Linked DNA regions of Homo sapiens. The protein of the gene in region 3 interacts with the protein of the main gene of each other region in a biochemical or structural test. Each region holds a gene or a part of one and is shown on either strand. Other genes may lie near its edges.

What was found.
Region 1: the proteins of S100A2 (region 3) and AREG interact in far-western blotting, tested with the Homo sapiens proteins (one study listed by IntAct).
Region 2: the proteins of S100A2 (region 3) and EPO form a complex in vitro, tested with the Homo sapiens proteins (one study listed by BioGRID).

The regions. Positions count from the first base shown.
Region 1 is NC_000004.12:74,443,031-74,446,853, forward strand, and holds the start of AREG (amphiregulin preproprotein), read left to right. Parts: upstream 1-2,105; 5' UTR 2,106-2,315; coding exon 2,316-2,376; intron 2,377-3,503; coding exon 3,504-3,752; intron 3,753-3,823.
Region 2 is NC_000007.14:100,718,370-100,721,969, reverse strand, and holds the start of EPO (erythropoietin precursor), read right to left. Parts: upstream 1,503-3,600; 5' UTR 990-1,502; coding exon 977-989; intron 413-976; coding exon 267-412; intron 9-266; coding exon 1-8. UniProt on the Homo sapiens protein: Hormone involved in the regulation of erythrocyte proliferation and differentiation and the maintenance of a physiological level of circulating erythrocyte mass.
Region 3 is NC_000001.11:153,564,397-153,568,219, reverse strand, and holds the start of S100A2 (protein S100-A2), read left to right. Parts: upstream 1-2,375; 5' UTR 2,376-2,714; intron 2,715-3,823. UniProt on the Homo sapiens protein: May function as calcium sensor and modulator, contributing to cellular calcium signaling. May function by interacting with other proteins, such as TPR-containing proteins, and indirectly play a role in many physiological processes.

The DNA.
Region 1 (3,823 bases), on a different chromosome or scaffold from region 3:
CTACAAATATGAAGTTACTTGTCAATCAAAAAAAAAAAGAAGAAAAGAGAAGAACAGGCCTAGAACAGAAATGAAGCCTATGGGAGCATAAAGGTGCAACAGTGTAGACCAACTGCGTGAGCTCCAAACAAAGTCTCCAAAAGAATCTTTTGAAATCTTTGGGCAAGTCTCTCAATCTCTCTGAATCACAATTGCCTCATCCACCAGAACAGATAACAGTGCAGGCCCCTACTTCACTTTGGAATGGGCATGACACTTTTCTAGCCTTATTTCCCATACTTGGTCATACCCTCACATCAGGTCTTTATTCCATGTAAAAGATTTGCTGGGAAGGCCTTTGAGGGGCCTCTTCATCTTTCCACAGAGCTTTCCATTAAACAGAGGCAAAATTAAACCATGTCCTTTTTTTCCATGGCACTCTGAACCCTTCTCATCATGTGATCTATTAGAATTACTTATCTATGTATCTGGCCCACACCACTGAGCTCCTGGTGAACCTATACTGCTCCCCTTCATAAAATATAAAGCAGGTGGCTCACACAAAATACACTCTCAACAAATGTGGAATAGAAGGCATGATTCATGATTATTTCATTCTACTAAATGCATGATATTATTTGGACTACGCACTGTGATATACCATTAAAAATAAGTGATTTTTAAAAAAAAATTTCCAGAATTAGGACAGATGCACTGTGACTCACGTTATTATTATTATTATTATTATTATTATTATTATTATTATTATTTTGAGTCGGAGTCTTGCTCTATCACCCATGATGGAGTACAGTGGCATGACCTTGGCTCACTGCAACGTCTGCCTCCCGGGTTCAAGGGAGTCTCCTGCCTCAGCCCACCCGAGTAGCTGGGACTACAGGCGCGCGCCATCACGCCCAGCTAATTTCCTTTGTATTTTTAGTAAAGATGGGGTTTTGCCATCTTGGCCAGGCTGCTCTCGAACTCCTGACCTCAGGTGATCCACCCGCCTCGGCTTCCCAAAGTGCTGGGATTACAGGCATGAGCCACTGCGCCTGGCCTGACCTACATTCTTAAAAGGGCTGTGTTACTGAAACAATCAGGAAAGAATCATATCTCCAGGTGAAGGAAAATGAACAATGCTTTTTCTCTTCCTCAAGTCAAGAAAAATCCAGTTCTTTAGTTGACAGTACATCCAAGTTAGTCAAATTAAGTAGCTTCCTGTCTCCGCTTCATTTTATCTACTTGTCATGATTAAATATCCTACTAGGTTGTAAGTGGGCCCTCAACGCTGACCTTTTTATCTTGGGATTTGAGAGGCACAGTCTAGAGCACTACTCTTCACCTAAATGCCAGTATGCCACCAGTAGAAATTATCCTTTAGGCTAAATATTGTTCTTCCCAGAAACCCTCTTTTCAAGGATCAGTTTAAACCTAAATTCATCAGAGAGGAAAACAGCAGATTTCAGAGTCAGATGAAGAATTCATATCCACCTGGCTTTGAACATTATCGGCTGTGAGATGGTGTAGGTAAAATTTTAAGTGCATAATTTGGCAATAATAAATCATCAATAAATATTAATGTTGATGAGGCCCCTGGGCCACATAAAGAAATAGGGAGTGAGGGGATTTGAAATTCTGGCCACTTCACAGAAATGGGTGGGAAGGGGCTCTTGATTGAGATAGAAGCCCATCCTACATGAAGCAATTCCTCATTGAGTTCTCTCGTCCTTTATCCTTGTTGGAAACATCAGGCAAAGTCACTCTTGGTCTTAAAGTACTTTTACATCTAAATACGGAACTCTTCTATTTAATCCCTGTCTGTTGTAGATGTTAAGTATACAAAGAGGTTGTCAGAGTTTGAAACATCTGGACTTCTGTCAGGTACTAGCTCCGGAACTCCAGTCCTGCTCGCCCTCAAAAACGGCTTGCAGCTAGAGGTTTAAGTTCCACTTCCTCTCAGCGAATCCTTACGCACGAGGGAGGCGGGGCGTGTGTCCTCCGCGCGTGGTTTTCGGGTAGCACCTTCTGGGGCGCCGCCTGCCTCCACCCACGGCCGGGCCTTGACGTCATGGGCTGCGGCCCCCTCCCGGCTGAGCCTATAAAGCGGCAGGTGCGCGCCGCCCTACAGACGTTCGCACACCTGGGTGCCAGCGCCCCAGAGGTCCCGGGACAGCCCGAGGCGCCGCGCCCGCCGCCCCGAGCTCCCCAAGCCTTCGAGAGCGGCGCACACTCCCGGTCTCCACTCGCTCTTCCAACACCCGCTCGTTTTGGCGGCAGCTCGTGTCCCAGAGACCGAGTTGCCCCAGAGACCGAGACGCCGCCGCTGCGAAGGACCAATGAGAGCCCCGCTGCTACCGCCGGCGCCGGTGGTGCTGTCGCTCTTGATACTCGGCTCAGGTGAGGATTCACCGGCGCTGAACTGCTGGGCTCTCCTCCCATGGCAGGTTTTGCCTCTTGAGTTTGGCTCTTGCTTCTCTAAAAATCGCCCTTTAGTTCCCCCGACCCTGCGCCGCAGGAGGTGATCACTGTAGCTCCCTCCCTAGGAGGAAAAGAGAAGGGCAGATGTCTCAAACGTCCAGGACAAGGTGTCCCAGAGAATCGCTGTACTTTTTCTTTAGTTCAGCTGAGAAGACGGGAGAGATCATTTGAACCTAACCCTTCGTTTCACAGATTAAAAGATTAAAAAGACCAAGATCTAGAGAGGTGAAGTGATTTCCGCAGATATTGGACCCAGCAGTGTTTGCTGCCTCCTGCCTAATTCTCCATCTCTGTCTAGTGATTTCTTCTTTACCTTCCTAGAGGGACTTAGAGTATCCCGGCGAGAGGTTAAAAGCACCACTCTGATGCTGTTTTATTGAGACCTAAGAAAAAGCAAGATAAAGCAGTGGCTTAACTCTGGGCCCCAAATCTTACTTAGTACTCAGTTTATTGTCTATGTAGTAATAATAATAATGATAATGAAAAATGACAATAATAATCGATATAATTAACCACTGTTTATATTATTTTAAAAGATTATCTTTTAAAAATATCTTTTAAAAATATGAACACATCTTTTAAAAATATGAACACATCTTTTAAAAATATCTTTTAAAAATATGAACACATCTGAAGAAAATCTGATATTTGTATCTAAAACCTACCGAAATAGGCCAGGATGGCATTCTAGCAAAAAAAGAAATGCATTTGGAATGTGAAGTGATGGGAATTTTTAGACATTACCCATCAAGTAATTGTATTAGATTAATTTGCCAATTTGGCGGGATTTTTTTGATGTGGAAATTAATGTGGATTATCTGTGGAAAAGAAAAACTTCAGAAAAGCACTTCTGTAATTGGGACAGCTGAATTTGCTTGCTGGCAAAAATGTAAAGTTTCTTTCATAGAAATGACTCAATCACAAACAATAGCACATGTGCAATAACTGCTTTGATGTCAAAAGATAAACTTTTCTACCTAACACAGCTGACTCGAAAGGCACCCTACTTTACCTTTTCTTTTCTTCCTTTATTCCCTCCCCTGCAGGCCATTATGCTGCTGGATTGGACCTCAATGACACCTACTCTGGGAAGCGTGAACCATTTTCTGGGGACCACAGTGCTGATGGATTTGAGGTTACCTCAAGAAGTGAGATGTCTTCAGGGAGTGAGATTTCCCCTGTGAGTGAAATGCCTTCTAGTAGTGAACCGTCCTCGGGAGCCGACTATGACTACTCAGAAGAGTATGATAACGAACCACAAATACCTGGCTATATTGTCGATGATTCAGTCAGAGGTGAGTAGGGGATAAAGCAAAAATATGGCCTGTGAGATGTGGGTTTATATGAGCAAAGCTGCTTCAGAAGT
Region 2 (3,600 bases), on a different chromosome or scaffold from region 3:
CAGCCCGTCTGAAATGCACACAGCCCGGGGAGTCAAGGGTCCCTGAAGGCTCTGGCCCTGGCCCACAGGCCGTAGGATCTGCTGGCTTTGCTCCTTGCCTAGTTTCCAGGTATGGTTTGGGGCCACCAGACTTATTCTTATGTAGGGGGGCAGTGTCTAGCTTCCCAACTCCACCCCAAACCAAGTGCCAGGTTCCTGGATCTGGGAGGAGTTCCCTGAAGCCCTGAGCGTGAGTTCTGTGGAATGTGCTGGGGAAGGGGTCTCACCGTGATATTCTCGGCCTCCTTGGCCTCCAAGAGGTACCTCTCCAGGACTCGGCTGTCACAGATGAGGCGTGGTGGGGCGCCCAGGACTGGGAGGCCCAGAGGGAGCGACAGCAGGGACAGGAGAAGCCACAGCCAGGCAGGACATTCTAGAACAGATAGCCAGGCTGAGAGTCAGGCGGGGAGGGAGAAGGGTGGCTGTGGAAGGACAGCTTCCTTCATCCCCACGTCTCTGCCCCAGCTCGTCCTTCCTGTCCCCAACCATGCAAGCACTCAGGTGCTGCCTCCCTGGCCTTCATTCAATCCTGCTGCCGTGTGCACACCCCACCCCCAGCTACCAGCATCCACTTCTCCGGCCAAACTTCAATCCTGGTGTGACAGAGGCTTCCCCTCTGGCAGATAAGTGGTGGCTCCAGCGCCCAGGTTATCAGCTTATCAGCTTCCTCTCCACTGGCACAGCAGAACCCCCAAACCTTCTTCCCCTCAACCCCCAAACTGTGTCCCCTTCACAGGTCAGGTTTTTGCCATCCCCAAGGACTCCCCCAAGTCCCCGCTGGCACGTGGAGGCTGCCCCACCCCCCTCCCCCTTCCGGGGTCCTTGACAAGTCGCCGGTCCTTGAACCCAGCCACCTCCTGGCCAATAGCCGGGGCGCTAAATCCCCGCTCAAACAGGGACCCGGGCGGGCGGGAGCGCCCAGCCCGCGAGTACTCACCGTGCACCCCCATCTCCGCGCCTGGCCGGGGTCCCTCAGCGACCTGGGGCGCGCCGGGTGACCACACCGGGGGCCCTCATCCCGGGAAGCTCGGCGGTGCAGGGCCAGCCCCACGGGCCTGGAGGAGAGGGCGGCTGTCCAGGGGGCGCGGTGTCGGAGCAGAGCGGGCGCGGTGGCCCCGGTCCGGCTCCGGGAGGACAGCGCGGTGCGGCGCAGCGCAGCGAGCGGCCGGGGTGGCCCAGGGACTCTGCGGCTCTGGCCGGGGGTCGGGGCTGTTATCTGCATGTGTGCGTGCGCGGGTGGGGGTGGGGGAGAGGCTGTGTGCGTGAGGGGTCGCCAGGGGTAGGGGCCACCCGGGGTCAGAGCAGGGGCAGGACGCCTGGGTTGAGGCTCGCCGGGGCGTGAGCGGGGCTGCTGCAGACGTGCGTGTGGGTCATGGGGGCTGCTCCCGGGCCCTGGGTCGCGGGAGGGGAGTGCAGCCGGTTGCGCACCCTTGGGACTGGCGGAGCGTGCTATCTGGGAAAGGCTGGGCTCCCGGACACCTCCCCTGGGGGGCATCCCGGTCTTGGGCGGAGACTCAGAGATGCCTGGGTTGCTGAGTTCCGCAAAGTAGCTGGGTCTGGAAGCCCAGAAGCTTTAGGGAGGGGCAAATGAGTGGTCTCCCTTCCCACAATCCCAGGACATGTTCTAGAAACAATGTTGACCATGTTGAGGAATTTGATGGGGGCAAATAGGGCAAGAAATTTGGGGTTCTTCCTCCCCACCTCACTCCTCACCGTCTAGTACTCTGCAAACCCAGACACTTAACTTTTTTTTTTTTTTCTGGAGATGTAGCCTCCCTATGTTGCCCAGGCAGTGCAGTGGTGCCATCTCCCGTTCACTACAACCTCTGCCTCCTGGGTTCAAGCAATTCTCCTGCTTCAGCCTCTGGAGCAGCTGGGACTACAGGCACACCTTTACACCCGGCTATGTTTTGTATTTTTAGTAGAGATGGGGTGTTGCCATATTGCCCATACCGGTCTTGAACTCCTGACCTCAGGTGATCCACCCTCCTCGGCCTCTCAAAGTGCTGGGATTGCAGGCGTGAGCCACCGCACCCAGCCCCCACCCCAGACACTTAACTTTTAGTGCACAGAGCACACAGTCCATTGTGCAGGACACACATGCACCTTGACATCTGTTTATTTGACCTGTGGTGTAGGTTAGCTAGGCTGCATTGCTGAGTTCTTAAGAACACTGAAATACAGCTAACACCAAGAGTGATGGGGGCTGGGATTTACAGCTAAGGTTTTATGGCTTCTGGAAACCCTGAGCCAGAGGAGTGAGATTCCCAGAGCAGGAGACCAAGACTAGCTGGTCTCTCACACCTTAGAAAGTGGCCTCGTCCTTGAGCCCTCAATGTCCTCATCTGTCAAATGGGTGTGGTGAAACTACCAGCCTATCCCATTCAGGTTTCATAAAAGACAGGAAAGGTCCAGGCGCCGCAGCTGACACCTATAATCCCAGCACTTTGGGAGACCAAGGCAGGAAGATCCTTTGAGCCCAGGAGTTCGAGACCAGCCCGGACAACATGGCAAGACCTTGTCTCTAAAATAAATAAATAAATAAAAAATAATTAGTCAGGTGTGGTGGCTCACGCCTGTAGTCCCAAATATGCAGGAGGCTAAGGCAGGAGGATCACCTGAGCCCAGGAGTTCGAGGCCGTAGTGAGCCATGATCGTGCCACTGCACTGCAGCCTGGGCGACAGAGTGAGAGCCTGTCTCAAAAACAAAAAAAGACTGGAATGTGTAGATCTGAGCTGTAAGAGTTAGCCGGGAGAAATCAAGAAAGATTTGAGGGAGGAGGTGACAATGACCTCAGCCTTGAAGGGGGGTAGGACATCAATGGGAAGAGGTATGAGGTGGGTGGGGGATTGTCGATTCAGCAAAGTGAATGGAGAGTCAGGTGAGTATTGCGGGATCTGGCCAGCAGCCCGCAATGCAACAGGGCTCTCTCTTTGTTCCCAGGCGGATCAGCAGGTTGAGAAATAATAGACACACACAAGATAGTGAAAGCTGGTCCGGGGGGTCACCGCCTTCTGGTCCCGTGGTGTCAACAATGCACCAGATGTACCATCATTTATTATTAAGTTTAGTGAGGGCGGGGGTAGGTTAGTGAGGGATTTAGGGTCATTTGATTATGAGGTGAGATGGTCACATGGGGATGAATTAATTCTTTAACATAACATTTATATGTAGAAGTACAGTACATTTGTATGCAGAAGTACAGTATACAGAGATAAGAATTTACAATATAGTGTGTGCATCAGTAATTTCTAACAGAGCCTTAAAACAGAAACACAATCTTTCCATAACCTATGATTAGCAAGATACTAATCAGCAGTAACAATTGCAACAAAAGCTGGTTACAGACAATCCATGGAAACAGGACATGAAGCTAGACAACCAGTTAGACCAGAAATTCTCAGAAGGGAGTATGCCTTAACCCTAAAGAGGCCTAGAAGAGCCATGGCAAGATGAGGGCGTTTATAGCCCTATCTTATCCATATGGACAGGTGCCCCCCGCCCCCATGCGTCCGTTTATAGGCTCTCCACAAGGGTCGCATTCCATTCCCAGAGCTATG
Region 3 (3,823 bases):
TGCCTGCCTGTCTCCGTCTCTGCCCGCTGGGGGGTTTGCTCAACTCCCTCACTGGGTCCTGGGAGCCGCAGTTTCCTGCTGTCACTCCTCAGGGATTTGTAGCTCTCTGAAGCTCTTTTCCGACCCGTTGTCTCGGTTCCACTCTTGGGATCCAGAGGAGAGGTGATTATTTCGTAGCATAGTCAGTGGTGTGATTTCACGGGGTGAGAAGGACTCCCTTGCTCCTAAGCACTCCTCCAGTGACCCCTGTTGCCATGTGGTAGCCGTAAGCACTGGTTGGCACCTGGTGTGGGCGAGACCCTTACCTCATGCAGAAATGAGTAAGACCGGTGAGCTCACCATGTGGGGGTGAGGCTGAGAGAAAACAAGTACACAGGTGATTCAGTCAAAATCAGAATTCTCTAAGTACACACGAAAAGGGCAAAAGGGGCGCTTTGTACAGGACAGAACAGGTAGACACTGAATCCGGTTGGGCCCTGGGAAGGCTCCCTGCAGTGGCCTTTGAAGGGGGGGTTGGATTTCAGCAGGATAGAGGGCATGGGCATGTGTGGGCACGTTCTGAACAGAGGGGTCAGCGCAAGCCGAGGGTCTTGGCCACACTAGTTGCATGTGCCGGTGTGTTTAAGGGACACGCAGCAGCAGGCCGAGTCTGGAGCGCCTCACTGCCAGGCTTTTTAAAAATTTTTAATTTTAATTTAATTTTATTTTATTTTTACTTTAAGTTCTGGCATACATGTGCAGAATGTGGTTTGTTACATAGGTATACATGTGCCATGGTGGTTTGCTGCACCTATCAACCCATCATCTAGGTTTTAAGCCCCGCATGCATCAGGTATTAGTCCTAATGCTCTCCCTCCCCTTGCCCCCATCCTTCTCCCCGCAACTGCCCACAGGCCCTGGTATGTGGTGTTCCCTTCCCTGTGTCCATATGTTCTCATTGTTCAACTCCCACTTATGAGTGAGAACATACCGCCTGGCTTTAAGGGACAGCCATGGGGATGCACTGCAGTTTCTGAGCAGGGAAGGCCCTGTGGAGGCCCTTAGTTAAAAGGAAAGAATGGCTGTGAAAATCGATGCATTGCGCTCCCTTGTCCCTCACCCTCAGTGTGAAGGGTTTTTATTCCGAGTTCTACTTGAAGTAGGCCTCGATGGGAAGACAAGTAGCATGAGGGGTTCAAGTACTGAGGGGAGCAAGGGACACTCGGTGGCTGTGCCAAGGTGTAGAAGAGGACACTGGGGGCCCCAAGGCCTGACTTCATGTACACTGCTCAGGCTGGCCCCCAAGTCACACGGTGACCGCTAGGAAGGGACCAGCCTGTTCTCAGTCTGATCCTCCTGCCATGTCATTATCCAAAGCTCCTCCTGGCAGGGCCTGTTTGGGGTCTCTGTGCCAGTGCTTTCCCTGCCAGGCTGGGCTGGGGCTTCCACCTACTGCTCTGGGACTGCTGCTGCCCTGGCCCTGGGGGAGGAGGGTGTGCCGCTGAGTCACTGCCTGGGCATCTGGGCCTGGAACCTCGGGTGAGTCACTTAGGGCTGAGGTAGAGGGGCTGGGGGAGGGGAAGAAGCTACTCGACAGCTGGAGCAGGGAGGGGAGCTGGGGCCACAGGAAGGGCGGTGCCCTGATGCCCAGACGGGCCGGGATAGACAAAGGGCCAAGGAGGAAGGGGCCCTGGGAGGGGGCAGCCCTCCCTTGGGCTGGGCTCTGAATGGCCACAGTGTTTGCCTTTCTCCGGGTCTGGGGAGGACATGTGTGTGGGGGGCAGTGAGAGAGGGCTGTGGCTGAGGGCTGTGCTTCAGGCCTGGATTCTGGCTTGGGAAGCTGTCCAGCTGGTGTTTTCAGCCTTGGGTAGGGATGTACCCCTACCCACCCACCCAGCCCTCAAGCTGGAGAAGAGGAGGCCAAAGTTTTCCTGTTCAGCCTTTAACTACTCGGGACTTCCTTATGCTCCCCACAGACTGTGGCCCAGCCCAACTGCGGCTGTGTGTAGAGCAACCCCATTTCTCACTGCTTCCCCATCCTTCCAGACACCTTCCTACACAGAGGGACCTTCCCAGGTATTTCTAAGCACACTTAGTTACCTCATTACCTCATTAAGAGGTATTCTGGTGCTGGCCATTAAAAGTCACTCCACTTCATCCATGCCCTGAAGTCAGTCCTGTCCTTCTCCTCCTGATGTCCCCCAGCTGCCTCCTCTGGCCCCCAGCTTCCTAAGGGTGGCCCCAGGTTGCTTCTCTCTCACACACACGGGCGCATGTATGTACACGAGCACTGGACCATGAAGTCTCAGCGTGTGCTCACAGCCTCTCACACAGGAGTGGGCTGTGACTCACAGGCATGTCATGAGAATGAGGCCTGGCACCAGTCTCCAGGCCCCAGAGCAGGGGTTGCCTCCCCTCACCCCGGTCCAGGATGCCCAGTCCCCACGACACCTCCCACTTCCCACTGTGGCCTGGGTGGGCTCAGGGGCTGCCCTTGACCTGGCCTAGAGCCCTCCCCCAGCTGGTGGTGGAGCTGGCACTCTCTGGGAGGGAGGGGGCTGGGAGGGAATGAGTGGGAATGGCAAGAGGCCAGGGTTTGGTGGGATCAGGTTGAGGCAGGTTTGGTTTCCTTAAAATGCCAAGTTGGGGGCCAGTGGGGCCCACATATAAATCCTCACCCTGGGAGCCTGGCTGCCTTGCTCTCCTTCCTGGGTCTGTCTCTGCCACCTGGTCTGGTGAGTACCTCTGTCCTGCTGAGGGCAGGGTGGGGAGGATCCCCGTGGGTCTCTGTCTTTGTCTCCACAGTTCTCTCATTCCAGCTTCCCTGGTGGGATCAACCTGGGCCTCTCTGGGCCTTCCCCCTTGGAAGAACTCTCTGTGAAGTGCTGAAGTGTTGACTGAAGGGTTTTTTTTTTTTTTTTTTTTTTTTGAGATGGAGTCTCGCTCTGTCGCCCAGGCTGGAGTACAGTGGTGTGATCTCAGCTCACTGCAAACTCCCCCTCCCAGGTTCACGCCATTCTCCTGCCTCAGCCTCCCGAGTAGCTGGGACTGCAGGCGCCCACCACCATGCCCGGCTAATTTTTTTGTATTTTTAGTAGAGATGGGGTTTCACCATGTTAGCCAGGATGGTCTCGATCTCCTGATCTCGTGATCCACCCATCTCGGCCTCCCAAAGTGCTGGGATTACAGGAGTAAGCCACCGCGCCCGGCCGACTGAAGGGTTTTTCTCCAGGTTCCTCTGTGAGGTCTCAGTGCAGGGGTTGCTCTGAGGCCCTCCCCTGGATATCTCAGTCTAGGGGCCCTTCTTTGGGGGTCTAGGCCTAGGAGCAGGAGGTGTGCATGTGGGCGTTGCTGCAAAAAGAATCCTGAGATTTTTTTTTTTTTTTGCAAAGTCCTGGATTCTAGCAGGACTAAGGTGCAAGAGGCAGGGGTCTCAAGACTCTGCCTGGGTCATGGCCCCAAGCAGCAAAGCTCTGCCCCCTGCCTCGGTGAAGGCAGGGCTGGCATGATGGGCCCAGGGCATGCCCTGCCTCTGGCATAGCTCCTCTGGCCTCACCCTGAAACCTGCCTAACCTTTCCAGGCTGGTCTGAGTATTCTCAGAGGCCTTGCCGCTGAGGTCTGTCCCATCCTGATCCCAAGGCAATGAACATTTCATATCTTTAATTCTAATTCCAACAGGATCCTTCCTGGTGGAGAGAATGTTAAGTTGCCCCCACCCTATCCATGCCCCTGTCTGCCTAGAGGCTCAGGGGCCTTCAGGGTGAGGGGAGACACATTCCCCACCCTCTGGGAGCTCCTAGTCTGAGAGAGGAAACACTCCTGCCCAAGGGAGCTTCCAGTTAG